4 separate regions of the Homo sapiens genome follow, and regions 1, 3 and 4 are each linked to region 2. Evidence: fine-mapped expression QTL. A gene starts in region 2. Each other region holds a variant in brackets. All regions are shown on one strand. Distances are between the middles of the regions.

Evidence for each region. PIP is the estimated chance that this variant, and not a neighbour inherited with it, causes the effect.
Region 1: its variant is fine-mapped to the expression of SENP5 in fibroblasts (GTEx, PIP above 0.99). The same link has a PIP of 0.9 or more in blood mononuclear cells, lung and whole blood.
Region 3: its variant is fine-mapped to the expression of SENP5 in monocytes after R848 (Quach 2016, PIP 0.95).
Region 4: its variant is fine-mapped to the expression of SENP5 in blood mononuclear cells (TOPMed, PIP 0.98).

The regions. Positions count from the first base shown.
Region 1 is chr3:196,897,474-196,899,973 of GRCh38, reverse strand. SENP5 (SUMO specific peptidase 5) reads right to left here. Exons shown (of 10, transcript NM_152699.5): 3 at 203-308; 4 at 1-50. Among named protein-coding and RNA genes, the nearest start is that of SENP5, 31 kb to the right of the region's middle. RefSeq lists an enhancer at 879-1,386. The variant A/G (reference allele first, on the strand shown) is at 1,003.
Region 2 is chr3:196,866,607-196,869,260 of GRCh38, reverse strand. It overlaps SENP5 (SUMO specific peptidase 5), which reads right to left and starts at 1,341. Exons shown (of 10, transcript NM_152699.5): 1 at 1,188-1,341. RefSeq lists an enhancer at 1-333 and a silencer at 985-1,564.
Region 3 is chr3:196,931,639-196,934,292 of GRCh38, reverse strand. SENP5 (SUMO specific peptidase 5) reads right to left here. Exons shown (of 10, transcript NM_152699.5): 10 at 1-2,654. Among named protein-coding and RNA genes, the nearest start is that of NCBP2-AS1, 6.9 kb to the left of the region's middle. The variant C/A (reference allele first, on the strand shown) is at 1,273.
Region 4 is chr3:196,937,812-196,940,465 of GRCh38, reverse strand. NCBP2 (nuclear cap binding protein subunit 2) reads left to right here. Exons shown (of 4, transcript NM_007362.5): 2 at 1,034-1,215. NCBP2-AS1 (NCBP2 antisense RNA 1) reads right to left here and starts at 589. Exons shown (of 3, transcript NR_046630.1): 1 at 339-589. The variant C/G (reference allele first, on the strand shown) is at 1,539.

The DNA.
Region 1 (2,500 bases), 31 kb before region 2:
TTTGATGTCTGGCCCGATAGTTTGTTATTTCCCTATTGATAAATGGTTTTCTGAAAGAGAAAGATTTTGAAACAAAAGGTAAAAAAAACATGAGTACTTCTCAATTTACTGCTAAATATCTTTTCTTCTGTAAATCAAGAGAAAAGTCATATATGCCAAAAATTTTATTTTCAAGGGCTTAACTTTAGCATCATTTATATACCTATTAGAAAAGTCTTCATTAAAGACATCTTTTAATCTTCCAAGGACTTCTTTTTCACTGAGTGGAACCAAACTGCCATACTTCTTCATAACCTCATCTAGGAATCCTTAAATAAAGGAAGAAAGAAAAGTTAAGATGGAAAAACAAGCCATTTTCAGTAGAGTCATTCTCCAAACACTTAACCTATACACAGCACTTAACACATACAGTGGTTAACCTATATTACTATATAATATTGATACTATATTTTTAAAGTTATGTCTTTTGTAAAAAATAAAATATATTAGGCTCTAACCAATGCAATCTAGAGAGACATACTGTGAGGAATCATTTCACATTAGATTTTTAAGTTACTGAAGCATTGTTAGAGAAGGAATGGATAGCTAGAAGGAAATACTAACAGCTTCCCACAGCTTAACCTTCTCTTAAAGCGTGACTTCTAAAGGGCTTAATCACATAGTCAAATGTGCCTATCCTTTTGGTAACTGAAAGAATTATTATTTTAAAATCACAATTAGCATTAACTGATGAGATCACTGTGACTCTATTATTTGGTAAAGGTATGTACTTTAGTATCAGCAAGGGACAATATCATACATCTTGATAAGTTATTATACTCATGACACCAAATAACGCTGTGAGGTGAGCTCAACTGGATAACAGCTAGTGAGGCACTTTTTTTTTTTTTTTTTTGAGATGGCGTCTCGCTCTGTTGCCCAGGCTGGAGTGCAGTGGCACGATCTCTGCTCACTACAAGCTCCACCTCCCGGGTTCACGCCATTCTCCTGCCTCATCCTCCC[A/G]AATAGCTGTGACTACAGGCGCCTGCCACCACGCCCGGCTAATTTTTTTGTATTTTTAGTAGAGACGAATGGAATCATCATCAAATGGAATCTAATGGAATCATTGAACGGAATTGAATGGAATCGTCATCGAATGAATTGAATGCAATCATCGAATGGTCTCGAATGGAATCATCTTCCAATGGAATGGAATGGAATCATCGCATAGAATCGAATGGAACTATCATCGAGGGGTTTCACCGTGTTAGCCAGGGTGGTCTTGATCTCCTGACCTTGTGATCCGCCCGCCTCGGCCTCAGAAAGTGCTGGGATTACAGGCGTGAGCCACCACACCCAGCTAGTGAAGCACATTTTAAGACAGTAAATAGAATTTTTTGGAGATGGGGTCTCTTTCTATCATCCCAGCTGGGGCATAGTAACACAATCATAGCTCACTACAGCCTCAAACTCCTGGGCTCAAGCCATCCTCCTGCTTGGATAGTTAGCTGGGACTATAGGCAAGTGAAACCACACCCAGCTAATTTTTTAATTTTTTTTTTTTAAGATGAGGGTCTTGCTATGTTGCTCAGGCTGGTCTTGAACTTCTGGCCTCAAGTGATCCTTTCGCTCCAGCCTCCCAAGATGAGAAATAAAATTTAAAGGTGGCTTTTTGGCCACACCATAGGACAGTCTTCAGGTAAATGTAAGTAACATGTATATGTGCTTATATATATCCCTGAATGATCCACTGAACCTAGAAAAGCCCCAGGAAATAAACCCAGGACGTTCTTTCTTTTCTTTTTTCTTTTTTTTTAAGACAAAGCCTTGCTCTTTTCACCCAGGCTGGAGTGCAATGGTGCGATTTCGGCTCACTGCAACCCACCCCTCCTGGGTTCAAGTGATTCTCCTACCTCAGCCTCGTGAGTAGCTGGGATTACAGGCGCCCGCCACCACGCCCAGCTAATTTTTGTATTTTTTTTTTTTGTAGAGACGGGGTTTCACCATGTTGGCCAGGCTGGTCTCGAACTCCTGACCTCAGGTGATCCACCTGCCTTGTCTTCCCAAAGTACTGAGATTACAGGTGTGAGCCACCGCGCCTGGCCACCCAGGACATTATTTCTAAGTAAATACAAAAAAGCTGAGGCAAGGCTTAGACGCTCACAGAAGTACAGACATGACTTAGGTTGTTCACCAATGCTGAATGGGCAGAGCAACAAATTAGCTAACCATCAGTCTGACGGTTAAGTCTGCTGAGTTAAGACAGGAAAAATGAGGATTGTTAGCCACATATCTTAACCAGCTCCCTTTGTAACTCCAAGAATGGCCTCTGCCATGCATTGATATAAACAGGATAGAAAAGATGATAAGAGTGTCTTGGGAATGAAGTGTTTTGTCTTTTATGAGGGGAGAGACAGACAAAGAAGTGAACAATTTATTTTTCCTCCTGTTAATCTCCCACCAGAGTACCTCTCAATTTTCAAGGCTTAACATAGGAGCAAAGGTCAGGGTACAGTAAACA
Region 2 (2,654 bases):
CCACTGCACTCCAGGCTGGGTGTCAGAGTGAGACCCTGTCCCCCCTCCAAAAAAAAATTGTGAGCCCAGGTGTAAATGAAGCCCCCCTCCCCAGCACCCTCCTCTACATACCAAGCTTTTCTCCTAGAAAAGATGCACTGGGAAAAAGCTATCTTGAGTAAAGATCAAAACTGATATAAGCCATCCCTCATATACCAATAATATGCCATCAATAAGCGTGAGACATGTGGATGGCTAGGAGAGAGTCTGGTTTCTTCCTGATGCTGCCCACCCAAAACAGAGACTGCAGTTAGGCTCTGACCACACGAGCGCCTGGCATCTCTAGGCAACCTTTTCCATACCAAGCTTAGTTATTCCGGGCAAAATGCAAAAAAAAAACATAAGTAGGAACCTATCATGAAGTGTCCTGGATATTCTTAAATTAAATTTAACCAGATTCTCAAAACATTTCATAACTAACGTCTGCTTTCTTCATTTAATTCTCCAAACATTATAATTTACATTGGTAGAAGAAAGTCCCACTTTACCTGCGGTGAAAAAGGTCGAAATGTCTATCTAGCATGAGATGAAAAACACTACCAGAGAGCAGGGTAGGATTTCACCTCGGCTATTCTCGCTCTAAGTCCAAAACTCCCACATCCTCTCCGCATCCCTCCACCCCGACAGAGTGGCCACAGGGCGTAGAGCGGAGGCTGATACCGCTCAGAGCAGACCGAAGGGAAAAGACGTCTCCCACCGCGCTCATGCCCAACCGGGCTCTCTGGAAAAGGGTCCCGGGGAGCGCGAGGAAAGAAACGAAGGCCGGAAGGAGGCAGAGCGGTCTAAGCAAATAAAAACCCCGGACTTCCACGGCGGCCGGAGCTGGAGGCCTGTGACAGCGGCTCCTCCTCTCAGAGCTTTCCCGGCTTCAGGAGGAGCTGGGGGGCGCCAGCTTCCCGGTGCCTGCGACGCACAGCCCGGCTGGAGCGAGAGCGCAGGGCAGCGGCCCCTCGGGACGAGCTCGCTCGCCTCCCCCGGAAAGGGAGGCTGTGGCCGAGACGGACGGCGGCCTCCAGCTCGGGCGGGGGAGGGCGGCTCGAGGCCTCCGGACCGGGCGCTGAGGTGGCGCACCGGCGCGGGAATGGCCCCAGCCAGCCCCGCCAGGCGATCGCTGAGTCCGTCACTCGTCTGCCCGCGTCCCCGCTTACCTGCTACCCTCGTTCCTGGCAGCTGCCCCGCCGCCGGCCCCGTCGCGGCAGCAGCCTGGACCGCGGACCCCGCCTTCGTCAGCTCCAAGGGAAGCCCCGCCAGCGACGAGGCGTCCGGCCTGTTCGCCGCGGCCACAGCCGCCGAGCTTCCTCTGAAGCGGCTGCCGCGACGCCGGCGCTGGCCTATCGCGTCACCTCCTCCGCGCCCTTCCGCCTGCGAGGCTGGGCCTGGCACCGCCCGCTTCCGGCGCTCCCGCCCCGCCTCCCGACCCGGGGCCGCCCCGCCCCCGCCCGTCACCGCGTCCTTAGCCCCGGCCTCCCTCAGAACGCGCTGGGATGGGAACCGCGTTCAGGAGCTGCTAAGCGCGTTTGAGACTTCAGCCCCTTCTCCAGCTTTTAACCTAAAAGGGCTAAATCAGACCGCAGCTAGTGTACACCCCTACCCTCCGCTGATCCCGTCACCCCTGCGCCGAAAGCAAAAGACCCATTCCAGCTCTGGACGTTGTGAGGCCTGGCCCAGGCGTCCGCTCTCTGGTTTTCCTATTGATCTTACCCCTGGTATTGTGATTGGCCTCTTTATCTATGTCTTACCCGCCCCAACTGTGAATGCTTTCCAAAATTATAAGCCGATGTCCTGACAGGCAAAAACATAATAATAGCAGATTTATGGCGGAAGATGAGTTCAGTTTTGAACATACTCGATCTGGAAGAATAAAGTGGAGGTGACTGCAATGGAAAACCAACAGTGCGTTGCTGAGAGCCTGTGTAGGCAGTAAGGATATGCATTGATGGTGGAGAAGATAAAAACAATACCGAAGCCAACTGCAGGATGGTTTGCTTTTAATTATCATCATGTGTCAGAAAATTCTAAACAATGTTAATGAAAAAGTACTCCTTTCCAAACAAAAGCTTTGTTTAGTCTTAGTTCTAAGCAATGGCTGCAATTACTGTTGATTTTTTTTTCTTTTTTCTTTTCTTTTTTTTTTTTTTCCAAACAGGGTCTTGCTGTCTCGCCCAAGCCGGAGTGCCGTGGCACACCCTAGGCTCGCTGTAACCTCTGCCTCCTGGGCTCAAGCGATCCTCCCACCTCATCTTCCAGGGTACCTGCGACCACAGGCTCCTGCACCACGCCCGGCTAATTTTTTATTACTATTACTATCATTATTTTTGTAGCGATGACATCTCCCTATGTTGCCCAGGCTGGTCTTGAACCCCTGAGCTCAAGTGATCCTCCCACCTGGGCCTCCCACAGTGCTCGAATTACAGGCGTGAACCACCACACCAGGCCCTCTCACTTCTTTTTAACAGTTTCTCTTTGTCAGTGATTTTTTTTTTTTTTTTAGAGGAGTGTCGCTCTGTCGCCCAGGCTGCAGTGCAGTGGCGCCATCTCGGCTCACTGCAAGCTCTGCCTCCCGGGTTCACGCCATTCTCCTGCCTCAGCCTCCTGAGTAGCTGGGACTACAGGCG
Region 3 (2,654 bases), 65 kb before region 2:
ATGAGGCTAGTGCTGGCTGAGTCCCAGTTAGGTCTGTTACTGTTCTGTTCCAACTATAAATCCAGGATGACTGTTACTCAGATTCAGTGCTATGTAGAAAATAGAATGCACAGCCAAAAACATAATTTGGGGATGACTGGCAGCACCTTTTTTTCCCTTTCTTAAGAGGCTAACTGAAAGTTGATTAGGATTCTTGAGAGAACGTAACTAAAAGTTGAATCAAATCTATATTCACTGCTATAGATTTAATAAAAGGAAAGACCACTGTAAAGATGCAACTACAACCTGATGCGTCTGCTGAGGAGAGGACTGGGCAGCTTGTTGAAGGCTCGTCAAAAGTAGCGCTTAGTTATCACAAGGCCTGCACTCAACCTCAAAAGCGTAAGGTTTAGGCCAGGCACGGTAGCTCATGCCTGTAATCCCAGCACTTTGTGAGGCAGAGGCGGGTGGATCACCTGAGGTCAGGAGTTCCGAGACCAGCCTGACCAACATGGCAAAACCCTGTCTCTACTAAAAATACAAAAATTAGCTGGGAGTGGTGGCGCACACCTGTAGTCCCAGCTATTGGGGAAGCTGAGGCAGGAGAATCACTTGAACCTGGGAGGCAGGGGTTGCAGTGAGCCGAGATCACATCACTGCACTCCAGCCTGGGCAACAGAGCAAGACTCCGTCTCAAAAAAAAAAAGCATAAGGTCTGCCTACCTCATGGGCACCCAAACAGTTCAGTGCCAAACTAGTACCAGTAAAGCCATGCCTGCCTCTTTCACCAACAGTCCAGAGTATATTTCAAAAATATCTTTATTAACCAAGGAAGCAATTACTGCAAACATCAGGACAAAGGACATTCTAATCTAGGACTTGAGTTAAATAGAGGTTTACACCTAATCACAAGAAGAGAGGGAAAGCAATTACGTGTGCTGAAACCAAGTTTCATCAATGACAAATATTTTAAAATGACTTTTAAAATACTTAACATTGGCCAGGCACGGTGGCTCCCGCCTGTAATCCCAGCACTTTGGGAGGCCCAGGCGGGCAGATCACTTGAGGTCAGGAGTTCAAGACCAGCCTGGCCAACATGGTGAAATCCTGTCTCTACTAAAAGTACAAAAATCGGTGGGGCGTGGTGGCACACACCTGTAATCCCAGCTACTTGGGAGGCTGAGGCAGGAGAATCGCTTGAACCTGGGAGGTGGAGGTTGCAGTGAGGCAAGATTGCGCCATTGCACTCCAGCCTGAGGGACAGTGAGACTCTGACTCAAAAAAAAAAAAAAA[C/A]AAAAAACCCAAACTCAACATTTAGTCTAAGCCACACTGGGCAGCACACCTCAAGGTGCCCTATGAAGCATGAGACTGGAAGTGGAAGAGTCACTGGATTTGGGCAGCTCTCTCTCGGCGTTGATTTTCTTACAGGAACAATTCTGTCTCTTCTGCATGCCAGGTTCTGTCACTGAGGAACTGAAACACTTCCTCACTCTGAAGTACAAGACATTTTGAACTGACAGCCCAGTGACTGGCTACTTTGGTATACCACACCCCCACAAAAAAAAAAAAAAAAAAAAAAAAAAAATCAGAGGCAAATTTCTGGCATGTTTTGAAAAATCTCATGTTTGCATAATTATGTTTGAAAAACTCATTATGAGATCTTCCTTACCCTAAACTGTCATTTTTTCCTAACGCTGACAGAACCCCACCTATAGCAGCATAAAGTGCCTCTACTCTCAGTCTTTTTAACGACTTGAAACACAGTAAGAAACACTGACCTGGTTTGACATTAAGGATTTTGGGTCTGGAGGACTCAGGAGAGGAAAGTGCTGGGGCTGCTTCCCAGTGTCACCACTGGTGTTGGGAACCCTGCATGTAAACATGGTCGGACTCAATCCTCAACTGCTGGCAGTCAGCCTTCTCAACCATACCTCAGGGCCAAGTGAAACTAAACATTTTAGCTTTTTCAACACTCCAAACCTACGCGGGCATAAACTCGAGAATCTTCTGCCATTTACTTTGTTTTTCTATTCAGACTTCTGAGTTTCTCATACATACATTGGTTGGTTTTCCTCCCAATTCAGAAAGGGTAACTGGGTAGGTTTCACATGTATCTTTCCAACATGTCACGAAAGGCTGGATTAAAGATGTGAGACGCGTGATATTCATCCTAATGCAGCTAAGTGTATGGACAAGGGCCACTTGGCCTTTCTTCAGAAGATGAGGTTCAACAGAAGGAGAAGAACAGCTGTGCTAGTGTCAGCACTGGCCATGCAGAAGCCAGACGTACCCTGCATGTTACTGAGGTCACTAATGGGACAGGAGAAAGAACCTGACACGGTTGCTGCGCTCCCATGGGACTAAGTTGTCTCTATTACCTTCCCTCTTCTCTCCAGCCACCTGCAAAACATCTCAAGTCAGTCAGCCTTCAGTTTTGAATGTTTACGTTTCAGATACCCTTGAAATAGAAATGCATTTGGTAAACCTTAACTTCTTCCAATTGGGAGGCAACACAGGGAAATGACAACTTAAAAATTACTCTGAGAACAGCTGCATTCTCATTTGTTTGACCACTAGTTTGATGGATGTTAAGATTTTTTTAACAGGTCGAAAACAGAAAAATTCAGGGAATTCAATATCCCAGCAAAAGCCTTTATGAGATGTATGCCACGTAT
Region 4 (2,654 bases), 71 kb before region 2:
AAAGGAATTTACTTTCTCTAATGTCTCACTCCAAAGTTCCGAAAACCTCTTTTTAACATACAATGACTATTGTCCTGTGGACTTTTTTTTTTTGAGATAGAGTTTCACTCTTGTTGTCCAGGCTCAAGTGCAGTGGTGCAATCTCAGCTCCCTGCAACCTCCACCTCCCAGGTTCAAGCGATTCTCCTGCTTCAGCCTCCCGAGTAGCTGGGATTACAGGCGCCCGCTGCTACCATGCCCAGCTAATTTTTGTATTTTTAGTAGAGACAGGGTTTCATTCACTATGTTAGCCAGGCTGGTCTCAAACTCTTGACCTCAGGCGATCCACTCGCCTCAGCCTCCCAAAGTGCTGGGATTACAGGCATGAGCCACCGCGCCTGACCCCGATGAGCCATTTTGGACCCAGGGCTTTGTCTGTCAGGTGTGTTGGATGAAGCCCAGTTATATGCTTAAGTCTCTGGCTTCATCCTGTCATCCCAATTTGGAAGCCCATTAAGAAAGTGAGCTCTGTTTTGTTTTTAGTGATCACTACATTTTCCCCTAAACTCAGAGAAAGATCTATGAGCACGTAAAGCATCAAGGTTGTGGCTTTCAACAGTCTCTAGGGGGTTATTAAAGAGGAACTCTCTCTCTCTCTGAAAACCCACTTATTTTTCACTACGAAGGATAAAAGGGCCCTTTGTCATATATTGGGTCAAGGTCCAGAGTCTACACTTGGGTTTAAAGGATGCACTGCTGAGGATATGGTGTGTGCAGGGAAAAGGGAAGCCGCTTGCGTGGCAGTCGGGCGTAGAAGTGACTTTGTTGTATGTGGTATAACTTTTGAGCCCTGTCTCTACTAAGAGTCTGGACTTCGCATAAGTGCTTCACAGAAGGTCGACATCCCCCTTTTTGGGCAAGGGATTTCTGGTAGGCTGGGATGAGAGAAGTTGATTTCCAAACCAGAATTAATGAATGTCTCTACCGTACTTAGAAATACTATTTAAGCAAGGCTCTGAAGTTGCTTAACTTTTGTCTCTATTTGAAATTCTAGGGTGACAATGAAGAACAAGAAAAATTACTGAAGAAAAGCTGTACGTTATATGTTGGAAATCTTTCTTTTTACACAACTGAAGAACAAATCTATGAACTCTTCAGCAAAAGTGGTGACATAAAGAAAATCATTATGGGTCTGGATAAAATGAAGAAAACAGCATGTGGATTCTGTTTTGTGGAGTATCCTTCCCATGGATCTAATGTAGCTGCTGAACCAGGGTAGAGCTGAGAGTGGTAGCTCATAAGCGTCCCTGCACTCGTCCCTACGTTTTCCTTCATCTCCCTCCTACTTTCCACCCAGTGTGTCTCTGCCCTTATACTGTAAAGCTGATACTATTTATATTCTCTTCTGAAATCCATGCTTTATGGTTCTTTAACAAAAAGTTTTTCAAGAATGTTTGCCCTTCACGTAAAAAAAAAAAAATTCCAAAGAATGTAGTGAAAATATAAAAATCTCGTACTGTTCTAAACCCCTAATGCCCTTTGCCAGAGGCAGTCAGTTA[C/G]CAGTTTCTTGGGCGTCTTTCAAGAAGTAACCCTGTGGGTGTGCGGTAGTGTATTTCATGTGCTGTTTTTAAAATCATTTTTTTATTTTTTATTGTTCCATTTCAGCATATGTAGGTCTTTTTTTAAAATAGCTGTACAGCTGGGCATGGTGGCTGGTGTTTGTAGTGCCAGCTGCTCAGGAAGCTGAGGCAGGAGGATCAGTTGAGCCCAAGATTTCAAGGCTGCACTGAGTTGTGACTGTGTTCCAGCGGGGGTGACGGGTTAAGACCCCATCTTTAAAGAAAAAAACTTTTAAGTAAATAGCTGTATAGTATTTCATTATATAGATGTATATAACCTGACTGTATAGGTACAAACCAAAACTATTTACTTTGATCATTTAATTCCCTTACTCAGACTCTTTTAAGTATTGGACCTCTTGGATTTATCCTATGTTCTTTTTACTGTATGTTTTGGTCATTCAATTTAATATTCTGAGAAATTTTGCAGGCCCAATTTAATATATCTTTTGAATTTTTTCCTGTGCCCTGAATTATGTTTGTTTCGGTTGAAATTTTTCCTTAAGTGTCTGGTGATCCCTGGATTTCTGCTCATAATTAAGGAAAAGAATGCTGACTCACTGGACCCAGGCAGGGCTTCTCTCCCAGATTGCAGGCTTGCCTCGGGGATACACAGGTTTCCCAAATGCTAGAATGAAAAGAGATTTTATTTTGGCTTGCTAACATCAAAGATACTAGTTTCTCCAGATGGTTTATTCAGAACACTGTTGTCTTATTTTTATTTGTCTGAGATTAAATGTCTTCCCCTTTAATTAAAGGGAGGTCTCTGATGAAGTAGGTTTGGGAACTGCTACCTTGGTGACAGCTTGAGTCTTTCCTTTAGTGAAGTGCAGCACAATTCCACGTGCACGGTGACCTTCTCTTGATTAGGGTGCCTTGGAATGTACAGAACCTAACTTGAATATACAGCACTGGTTTCTTGGATAAGAAGTGTACAGTGATCTAAACTTGCAAACCAAAATACAGAGATGATGGGACCAAAAATTATCAACAGGAATGTCCAAGAAATATGATCAGTGTAGCCATGGATACGTGTCATATTTGACTCTATGTGCT